Homo sapiens: one gene and its partner. The protein of the gene in region 2 purifies or fractionates together with the protein of the main gene of each other region. This does not show direct contact. Each region holds a gene or a part of one and is shown on either strand. Other genes may lie near its edges.

Evidence for each region. The genes of interacting proteins can lie anywhere in the genome.
Region 1: the proteins of SLC25A3 (region 2) and TMEM177 fractionate together in Homo sapiens (co-fractionation; one large-scale study listed by BioGRID). This does not show direct contact.

The regions. Positions count from the first base shown.
Region 1 is NC_000002.12:119,677,708-119,682,000, reverse strand, and holds the start of TMEM177 (transmembrane protein 177), read right to left. Parts: upstream 2,801-4,293; 5' UTR 2,725-2,800; exon of another isoform or gene 2,384-2,724; intron 1,170-2,383; 5' UTR 1,148-1,169; coding exon 212-1,147; 3' UTR 1-211. UniProt on the Homo sapiens protein: Plays a role in the early steps of cytochrome c oxidase subunit II (MT-CO2/COX2) maturation and is required for the stabilization of COX20 and the newly synthesized MT-CO2/COX2 protein.
Region 2 is NC_000012.12:98,596,251-98,600,714, forward strand, and holds part of SLC25A3 (solute carrier family 25 member 3 isoform b precursor), read left to right. Parts: intron 1-1,605; coding exon 1,606-1,785; intron 1,786-2,271; coding exon 2,272-2,453; intron 2,454-3,384; exon of another isoform or gene 3,385-3,634; intron 3,635-3,704; coding exon 3,705-3,877; intron 3,878-4,464. UniProt on the Homo sapiens protein: Inorganic ion transporter that transports phosphate or copper ions across the mitochondrial inner membrane into the matrix compartment. Mediates proton-coupled symport of phosphate ions necessary for mitochondrial oxidative phosphorylation of ADP to ATP.

The DNA.
Region 1 (4,293 bases), on a different chromosome or scaffold from region 2:
GAAACAAAGGCTCAGATTCATAGCCCCTGAATAGTCCCTCATAGTCCCTGAGTTCATAAGTAGTGGTTATAGTACAATCTAAGCTATTTAATTCCAAAGCCAGTGATTTTTCTGGCCGTGAGCTATAGGTCCAAAGGCTCCAACAGGGCCCTCCAGACTCAATGGCAGGGTGGTGTCTGCACAAGCTGGAAGTGTCCTTGTGATGAGCCCATCAGGAGCGGCCCGGATTGAGCATCCCCCTCCACATCTGCAGCACAGAGTCCCGGCGGGTGGTGTAGGGTAAATGTTTGATTCGGAACAAGTGTCTGGGGACGATGTTCCCGCTGGGTGTATACAGCTTCTCCCCGTCTTTGCCCAAGAGACTGCGCAGGGCCAGGTTGCCCGACAGAAGCTTCTCATAGAACTCCACTCCACCACAGGCATAGGCTGCAGAGAGGGAGGCCGTGCGGCGGTCCAGCCAGGACTCCACGGCATGAGTGAGAGAATCCTGGGAGAAGGCGTAGGCCACAAAGCCTGCCACTGCTGCCACCAAGCTGAAGGCAGCCCGTAAATTCATGGGGCCTGCATGGAGCCCCAGGGTGTACTTGGCACCCACGCCCAGTGCCCAGGTCCCTGCCAGGCAAGCTGGGGCCAGCAGGGCGTGCACGGCAGTGGTACTGCTTTCCAGGTACACCACTTCCCTGGCCAAGGCGAACTTCTGGGCTTCACGGGACAAGGTCAGGGAAGCTCTCAGCCGGGCGCCTGCTGGGCTCCGCCAGTCCACTGTATGCCCATGTATGACCACGGGATGGTTAGTGTTGATCACTAGGTCTCCCAAGAAACTGGCAGGGATGCCCACCACAGCCCCAGCAGGGAGTCTTGGGAAGCCTGCACTCACAGGTTGGAAGGTGAAGGTGGTGAAGGGCTTGTAGCAATGGCCTGAAGGAACACCTATGTCCTGTAGCACCTCTTGGAAGAGGCTCTGCAGCTGTGGAGGGAGCGGAGCTGGCTGGCCCTGAGGCCAGTACTGGTAGAGCCATTGGACCACGGGATCCGGGAAGAGGTGGTACGAGATTGGAACTCCAAACAGGCCTGCACAGGAACCCACCAAGAGGCCTGTCCTGTGTCTCTGCACAAATGCTGCGGTCCGCCACAGGGGACCTGCCATGAGTGTAGTCACTGCGGACAATCTGGGCCAAGAAAAAGAGAAGTCAGCCAGTTTCCCTGGGTCAGCCTGCAGACTGAACATCCTCCAGGGTCCACACCACCTTTTTAAACCAAAGTAACACAGCATAGTGGTGAAGAGTGTGGGCTCTAGAGCCAGAGTGCCTGTGTTCAAATCCCAGCTCCGTCTCTGTGCGTCAATTTCCCCATGTGCCAAACAGGTGTGTCGTAATGGCCCACCTCTAGGGTGGCGGTGATGAGCACATGAATAAACATACATAAAACATTTAGTGTCTGGCACAGCAGCAGATATTCCTTATAATAATGGCTGTAATGACTTTTATTCCCATCGCTGGGCACGGCACTCCAACTGCCTCATTCCACTCATCCCATGGTAAAGCCCTATGATTACTAATTTATAAGGAAAAACGTGTTCAATTTATTGAGTGCTTACTATATGCTAGACTCAGTTCTGAGCACTCTTACCGATTGAACCCTCACAACCCCATGACCTAATTACTACAGCTAACCCTATTTCAAAGCTGTGAAAACTTAAATGGCCAAAATCCTAAGCTAGTGAAGTGACAGTGTTATGGGCTGCACTGTGTCTCCTCCTCCTCCCCAGTTCATATATTTAAGTCCTAACCCCCAGTACCTCAGACTGTGGCTGTATTTGGAGACAGGGTCTTTAAGGAGATAATTAAGATAAAATGAGGCCATCAGTATGGATCCTAATCCAATTTGACTGGTGTACTTATAAGAAGAGATTAGGATGCAAACAGGCACAGCAGGAAGATCATGTGAGGATCCAGGGAAAAGGCTACCACCTACAAGCCAAGAAGGGAGGTCTCAGAAGACACCAACCCTGTTAACACCCTGGTCTTGAACTTCCAGCCTCCATAACTCCCAGAGGACAAATTTCTGCTGGTTGGGCCACCCAGTCTCCGGTACTTCGGCATGGCAGCTCTAGCAAGCTAACACAGGCATAGTCAGGTGTCCACAGCAAACTTTTTGTTTTAGAAAACTTGTTATGCCAAATTACAAGCATATACCAAAGTAGACAAAATAGTACATCCATCAACTTCAATCCCATCAACTCATGGCCAATCTTGTTTGATTTCTCTTTCCACCACACTTCCGTCCAACTGGTTTATTTTGAAACATCCCCGGGCATCCTATCACTTCATCCGTGAATACGTCAGTAAAAATTCACAATTATTTCACTTTGATTGAAACTTACTGTATTCCTGTCCGTGAAAAGTGCTTAATGAGCAACGAATGAGTTGCCGCAAACAAAAACGCAGGGTACCGCTTGGCCTATCTTAATCAAGAACTCCTATAAGAATCATTATCATTCGGGCTTTTTTTTTTTCCCAATGCGGAAAGTGAGGCTAAGAAAGGAAAGGTCTGGACCAAAGTCCAACGTCCCTAGGGCCATCGCGCTGCGGGGTGGGCCTAGAACACAGTACCATGCAGCCCGCCGGTGGCTGGGGGAGGAGGGGCTGCAGGAGCCCCGCAGAGGGGTCCTCGCTACGCTTCCACTCTGGGCCCCTAGGCTACTCCGCAGTCTGAACGCGTTACCGGGTCGCATCAGGCCGGAGAAGGGTCCCTCCCGCTCGTCCGTGCGCTCACCTCCGCCGCCGCTCGGAACGCCTACATGTGCGCGCGGCAGGGCGGCCGCAAAGCACGCCGGCCGGGGATCTGGGGGCGGGGACTTCGGGAGGCGGAGCTCGCCGGCCCCGGATCTTGGGATGGGGACTTCAGGGGGCGGAGCTCGCCGGCCGGAGATCTCGGGGCGAGGATTTCAGGGAGGGGAGCTCGCTCGACGGGTCTGGGGGCGGGACTCTTGGGGGTGTGGCTGGGGGGGCCTCAAGGGGATGTCCGTGGGGGGCTCCGGCCGCCGCAGAGGCTCCTTCTCTAACTGTGCACCTTGGGGTGGGTCCGCTAGCACTTCCTCCTCTGCGTTGAAATGCGTCTTTGATTAATACAAAAATTAGCTGGGCGTGGTGGCGCACGCCTGTAGTCCCCAGCTGCTGGGGAGGCTGAGGCAGGAGAATCGCTTGAACCTGGGAGGCAGAGGTTGCAGTGAGCCGAGAATACGCCACTGCACTCCAACCTGGGCGACAGAGCGAGACTCCGTCACACACACACACACACACACACACCCCGGTGTCTTTGATCATGCCACACACACACACACACACACCCCGGTGTCTTTGATCATGCCACACACACACACACACACACACATACCCTGGTGTCTTTGATCATGACACACACACACACACACACCCACCCCGGTGTCTTTGATCATCACACACACACACACACACACACACACACATCCCGGTGTCTTTGATCATGCCGTTGAACCCCCGAAGGAACGGCAGCCCCGCGTGGGTCACCAGGCGGCCTATGGCAGGGCCCCCATCAGAACCCATGCCCATCTGACTGGCCGGCCCGTGTACTTCTCCGTCTGGAAGCGCTCACCCTTGGCGGGGAGCTCTGAGCTTTATGTTTATTACCATGTTCGCTGCCCCCCAAGCTCCTCCCAGGTGCTTCACACTGTACAGTCCACAGAGCAGCGTGCCATCTGTCATTTCTCCTTTCCAGCTGCTCTGTGAGGTAGATGAGGGATCATCTAATCTGTGCACCAAATCCAGCTCTCCACCTGCTTTTGTAAATAAAGTTTTCTTGGAACACAGCCATGCCCAATCCTTTACAGAGGGTGAAAACAGACTGCCTAGGGTTAAAGCCGGGCTCCACCCCTTACTAGCTGTGTGATAAAATGAGTTGGTGTATATGTAACCTGTGCCTCACGGTTTGTGCCGCCTAGCCATTAGCTATTATTATTAAAGTCTGTTCTGTTTCTGAGCCCCCCCCCCCAATTTTGGCTGCTCAGTTGTTTGTATGTAAATAGTGCAATGTGACCTCAGCCAAAGCCAGAATGTGGGACATTCTACAGGGCAAATGACGTGGTTTATCCAACAAATCAATGGCATAAACAGGGAAGGAGGGGGACTCAAAAGAAAAGAGACTTGAGAGTCATTGCAGTTAAATGCAATATGTGACTTTTATTGGGATCCTGAACCAAATAAACTAACTGTAAAAAAGACACCTTGGGCTGGGCGCGGTGGCTTACGCCTGTAA
Region 2 (4,464 bases):
AAGTGCTCTTAATATCTTAGTATGAAAATTTTGTCAGATTAGCCTCTTGTTTATTTACACAACATTTTAAAATAATTTGAATATATTTTAATTAAGATCATTGAAACAAAAACAAGACATCGAAAATTTATTTGTTCCAAACTGGATTAGAAGTCTACTTACCTAAAAGAGAAATGAATTTGAAATATTAGGAGGGAGAGGAAGGTGATGTATACCATCCCTTCTAGTACTGGCAGAAATAGATAAGCTTTTCCTCCCCCCCCATTAGTTAATGTAATGGATATGAAATGTACCTTTGCTAAAACGTGTTATGCATGTCTCTTGAAGTGAATTTAGTTTATGTGCTTTTTTTTTTTAACTTGTGTTTAGTTTGTTTAGTGTTCACAAAACTTTATGCTATAAGCTACTTAAAGAACTAGCATATGTTAGGAATACAGTTATATCTATTATCTAGACAGTAGCTTTTAAAAAGTAGGAGGTGGGCCAAGCATGGTCGCCCACACCTGGAATGCCAGCATTTTGGGTAGCCGAAGCAGGTGGGTCACTTGAGGTCAGGAGTTCGAGATCAGAACTCAATCTAGCCAACATGGTGAAACCTCATCTCTGCTAAAAATACAAAAATTAGCTGGGCATGGTGGCGTGCCTGTAGTCGCAGCTACTCGGGAGGCTGAGGCAGGAGAATCGCTTGAACCTGGGAGGTGGAGGTTGCAGTGAGCTGAGATCACACCATGGCACTCCATCCTGGGCTACAGAGCAAGACTCAAAAAACAAACAAACAAAAAACACAAAAAAAGTAGTAGGAGTTGGGTGGTAAGAAATCTGTTAAGAATCAGTTTTGTTACGTATTTTTGTTGAAATTTTACCCTCTTAACTATCACTCCAAGACTTAAGTTTGACACAGAAAGCTTTTGTTGAAATTTTACCCTCTTAACTATCACTCCAAGACTTAGGTTTGACACAGAAAGCTAGACCTTAATGTACAACAGTTTCTATTTATAAAAGTAATCAAATGAACAATAATAAACAGTGATAAGCATAAACTAATAAAAGTTATATGAATGTAGTTCCTCACTCAAAATATCTTAATATTTTCAGATGTCAGTTGACCTTGGATAACTGAAGCCACAGAAAATGAACTCTTGGATAAGGGAGAGCTACTGTATTTCTTTTTTTTTTTTTGAGATGGAGTCTTGCTCTGCTGCCCAGGCTGGAGTGTAGTGGTGCCATCGTGGCTCACTGCAACCTCCACCTCCCTCCCTCAGGCTCAAGCGATTGTTCTGTCTCACCCTCACCCTCCCGAGTAGCTGGGATTACAGGTGCACGCCACCATGCCCGTCCAATTTTTTGTATTTTAGTAGAGATGGGGTTTCACTGTGTTGCCCAGGCTGGTCTTGAACTCCTGAGCTCAGGTAATCCACCTGCCTCAGCCTCCCAAAGTGCTGGGATTACAGATGTGAGCCACCGTGCCTGGCAGGAATTACTGTAGTTACCTTTTGTGTAGTTGCTGAAATTTATTATGGAACCCAAACAAAAATAATCATGAGATTAAATTTTTATGTTAGCTGTTTGGTGCATTTAATTTTTTTTTTCTTGTTTTAAATAAAGGTGGACCCCCAAAAGTACAAGGGCATATTTAACGGATTCTCAGTTACACTTAAAGAGGATGGTGTTCGTGGTTTGGCTAAAGGATGGGCTCCGACTTTCCTTGGCTACTCCATGCAGGGACTCTGCAAGTTTGGCTTTTATGAAGTCTTTAAAGTCTTGTATAGCAATATGCTTGGAGAGGTATGTAATTAACTTTAAAATTGAATGTTCCGAGTGTTTAAGACTTTCCGAGTGTTCTTAGATTTTTGTCTGTCTTGCCTTATTTTAGCACTGAAGAAAATGGTCCTACAAAGTGAGCAACTTGTTTTAAATCGTATGCCTGTGTCAGCAGAGACAGGTTGATAAATGTATTTCATTAAATTACAATTCTCCTTTTAATATACTATCTTGTTTTCTAAGTAAGTTGGATTTTGAGTTTTTTAGAGAAGGGCTCTGGGACTCCTTTGCGTAGTTCCGGGGCATGGCATCTAGATATTTTTTGAATATTCATGTTGTTCACATAGTTACGTGTTTTGTTAATGAGGTTATGAGACCACATATATATTCCATATCATCGTGTGTTACTTTATAAAATGTCTGAAGCTTAGTTGTTTTCTAGAACTGTCACTTCAATTGAAAACCAACACAACAGCAATTCACATCCCTTCCTTGTGTTTTGGATTTTAGGAGAATACTTATCTCTGGCGCACATCACTATATTTGGCTGCCTCTGCCAGTGCTGAATTCTTTGCTGACATTGCCCTGGCTCCTATGGAAGCTGCTAAGGTTCGAATTCAAACCCAGCCAGGTTATGCCAACACTTTGAGGGATGCAGCTCCCAAAATGTATAAGGAAGAAGGCCTAAAAGCGTAAGTAAACACTTAAAAATTTATACTATGAAAGTACTTATTTTAAGTGAACTTCATTTTTTTTTGTTTTTTTTTTTGTTTTGTTTTTTTGAGACAAAGTCTCGCTCTGTCACCCAGGCTGGAGTGCAGTGGCGTGATCTCGGCTCACTGCAAGCTCCGCCTCCCGGGTTCACGCCATTCTCCTGCCTCAGCCTCCCAAGTAGCTGGGACTACAGGCGCCTGCCACTGCGCCCAGCTAATTTTTTGTATTTTTCAGTATAGACGGAGTTTCACCGTCTCCATCTCCTGACCTCATGATCCGCCCACCTTGGCCTCCCAAAATGCTGGGATTACAGGTGTGAGCCACCGCACCCGGCTTCTTTTTTTTTTTTCTTTGAGACGGAGTTTTGCTCTTGTTGTCCAGGCTGGAGTGCAATGGCACTATCTCAGCTCACTGCAACCTCCGCCTCCCAGGTTCAAGTGATTGTCCTGCCTCAGCCTGCTGAATAGCTGGGATTACAGGCATGCACCACCACGCCTGGCTAATTTTGTATTTTTAGTAGAGACTCCATGTTGGTCAGGCTGGTCTCGAACTCCTGACCTCAGGTGATCCACCCGCCTCGGCCTCCCAAAGTGCTGGGATTACAGGCGTGAGACACCGCGTCTGGCTGTGAACTTCATTTTTTAGTATTAAGCCTACCAGACTTTTTAAAAAGACTATTATAACATTTAATGTCTATTTACCTGTATGTAGAACATAAACTTGAGAGGTAAAGATAAGTTAATACATGGTTTGAGCCCTGGACTGAGTTTTTTTTTTTTCCCTAGAGTAAGGACCATTTGTCGGTCTACAAATGACTTGATGTTTGGCCTAAACATTTACTATTAACTTTTAGGGAGGGCTTGTTAGTATCCTTGTGATCTATTCACAGTTAAGAATTTCCATGACCACAACATGCTTCCTTAGATCCACCTTTGTGGATGAATCTTGAACTGAGTTCCACTTGTAAACTTCTTGTTTCTTGTGGTTCCAGTAGTCAAAGAAACATCCAGCAACTTTTTTGGTTGTATAGTCAAAGGTGCTTGAGTCATTGGCATGTAAGAGAAATATACCTGCATGTTAGTCTAACGTTCTGATAGAAATGACATGCATTTATGCTGCCATTTGTTACTATCAGGACTCGACTCGTGTGCGGACATTTCTGTTAATAATGACAGTCTCTGATAGATGAGTGTATGCAACTGTGTAAAACAAGTCTCTTGATTTCCTAGATTCTACAAGGGGGTTGCTCCTCTCTGGATGAGACAGATACCATACACCATGATGAAGTTCGCCTGCTTTGAACGTACTGTTGAAGCACTGTACAAGTTTGTGGTTCCTAAGCCCCGCAGTGAATGTTCAAAGCCAGAGCAGCTGGTTGTAACATTTGTAGCAGGTTACATAGGTACGAATTACTTAGAACACACTTGTCTGAAATTATGAACAAATAATCATTTCCATTATTGGCGTTTTTTGAGAGGGAAAAATACTCCAAAGGTTATAAAGCAGTGTTTTTGTTTTTTTGGTTTCCCTGAGGCATAGTCTCGCTCTGTTGCCCAGGCTGGAGTGCAGTGGCATGATAATAGCTCACTGCAACCTCCTCCTCCTGGGTTCAAGTGATTCTTCTGCCGCAGCCTCCCAAGTAGCTGGGACGGGCATGCACCGCCATGCCCGGCTGATTTTTGTTTTTGTTTTTTGTTTTTTTTTGAGATGGAGTTTTACCCTTGTTGCCCAGGCTGGAGTGCAGTGGTGCAATCTTGGCTCACTGCAGCCTCCGCCTCCTGGGTTCAAGCGATTCTCCTGTCTCAGCCTCCTGAGTAGCTGGGATTGCAGGCGTCTGCCACTACGCCCGGCTAATTTTTAGTATTTTTAGTAGAGACGGTTTCACTATGTTGGCCAGGCTGGTCTCAAACTCCTGGCCCCAGGTGATCTGCCTGCCTTGGCCTCCCAAAGTGCTGGGATTACAGGCGTGAGCCACCGCGCCTGGCCTGA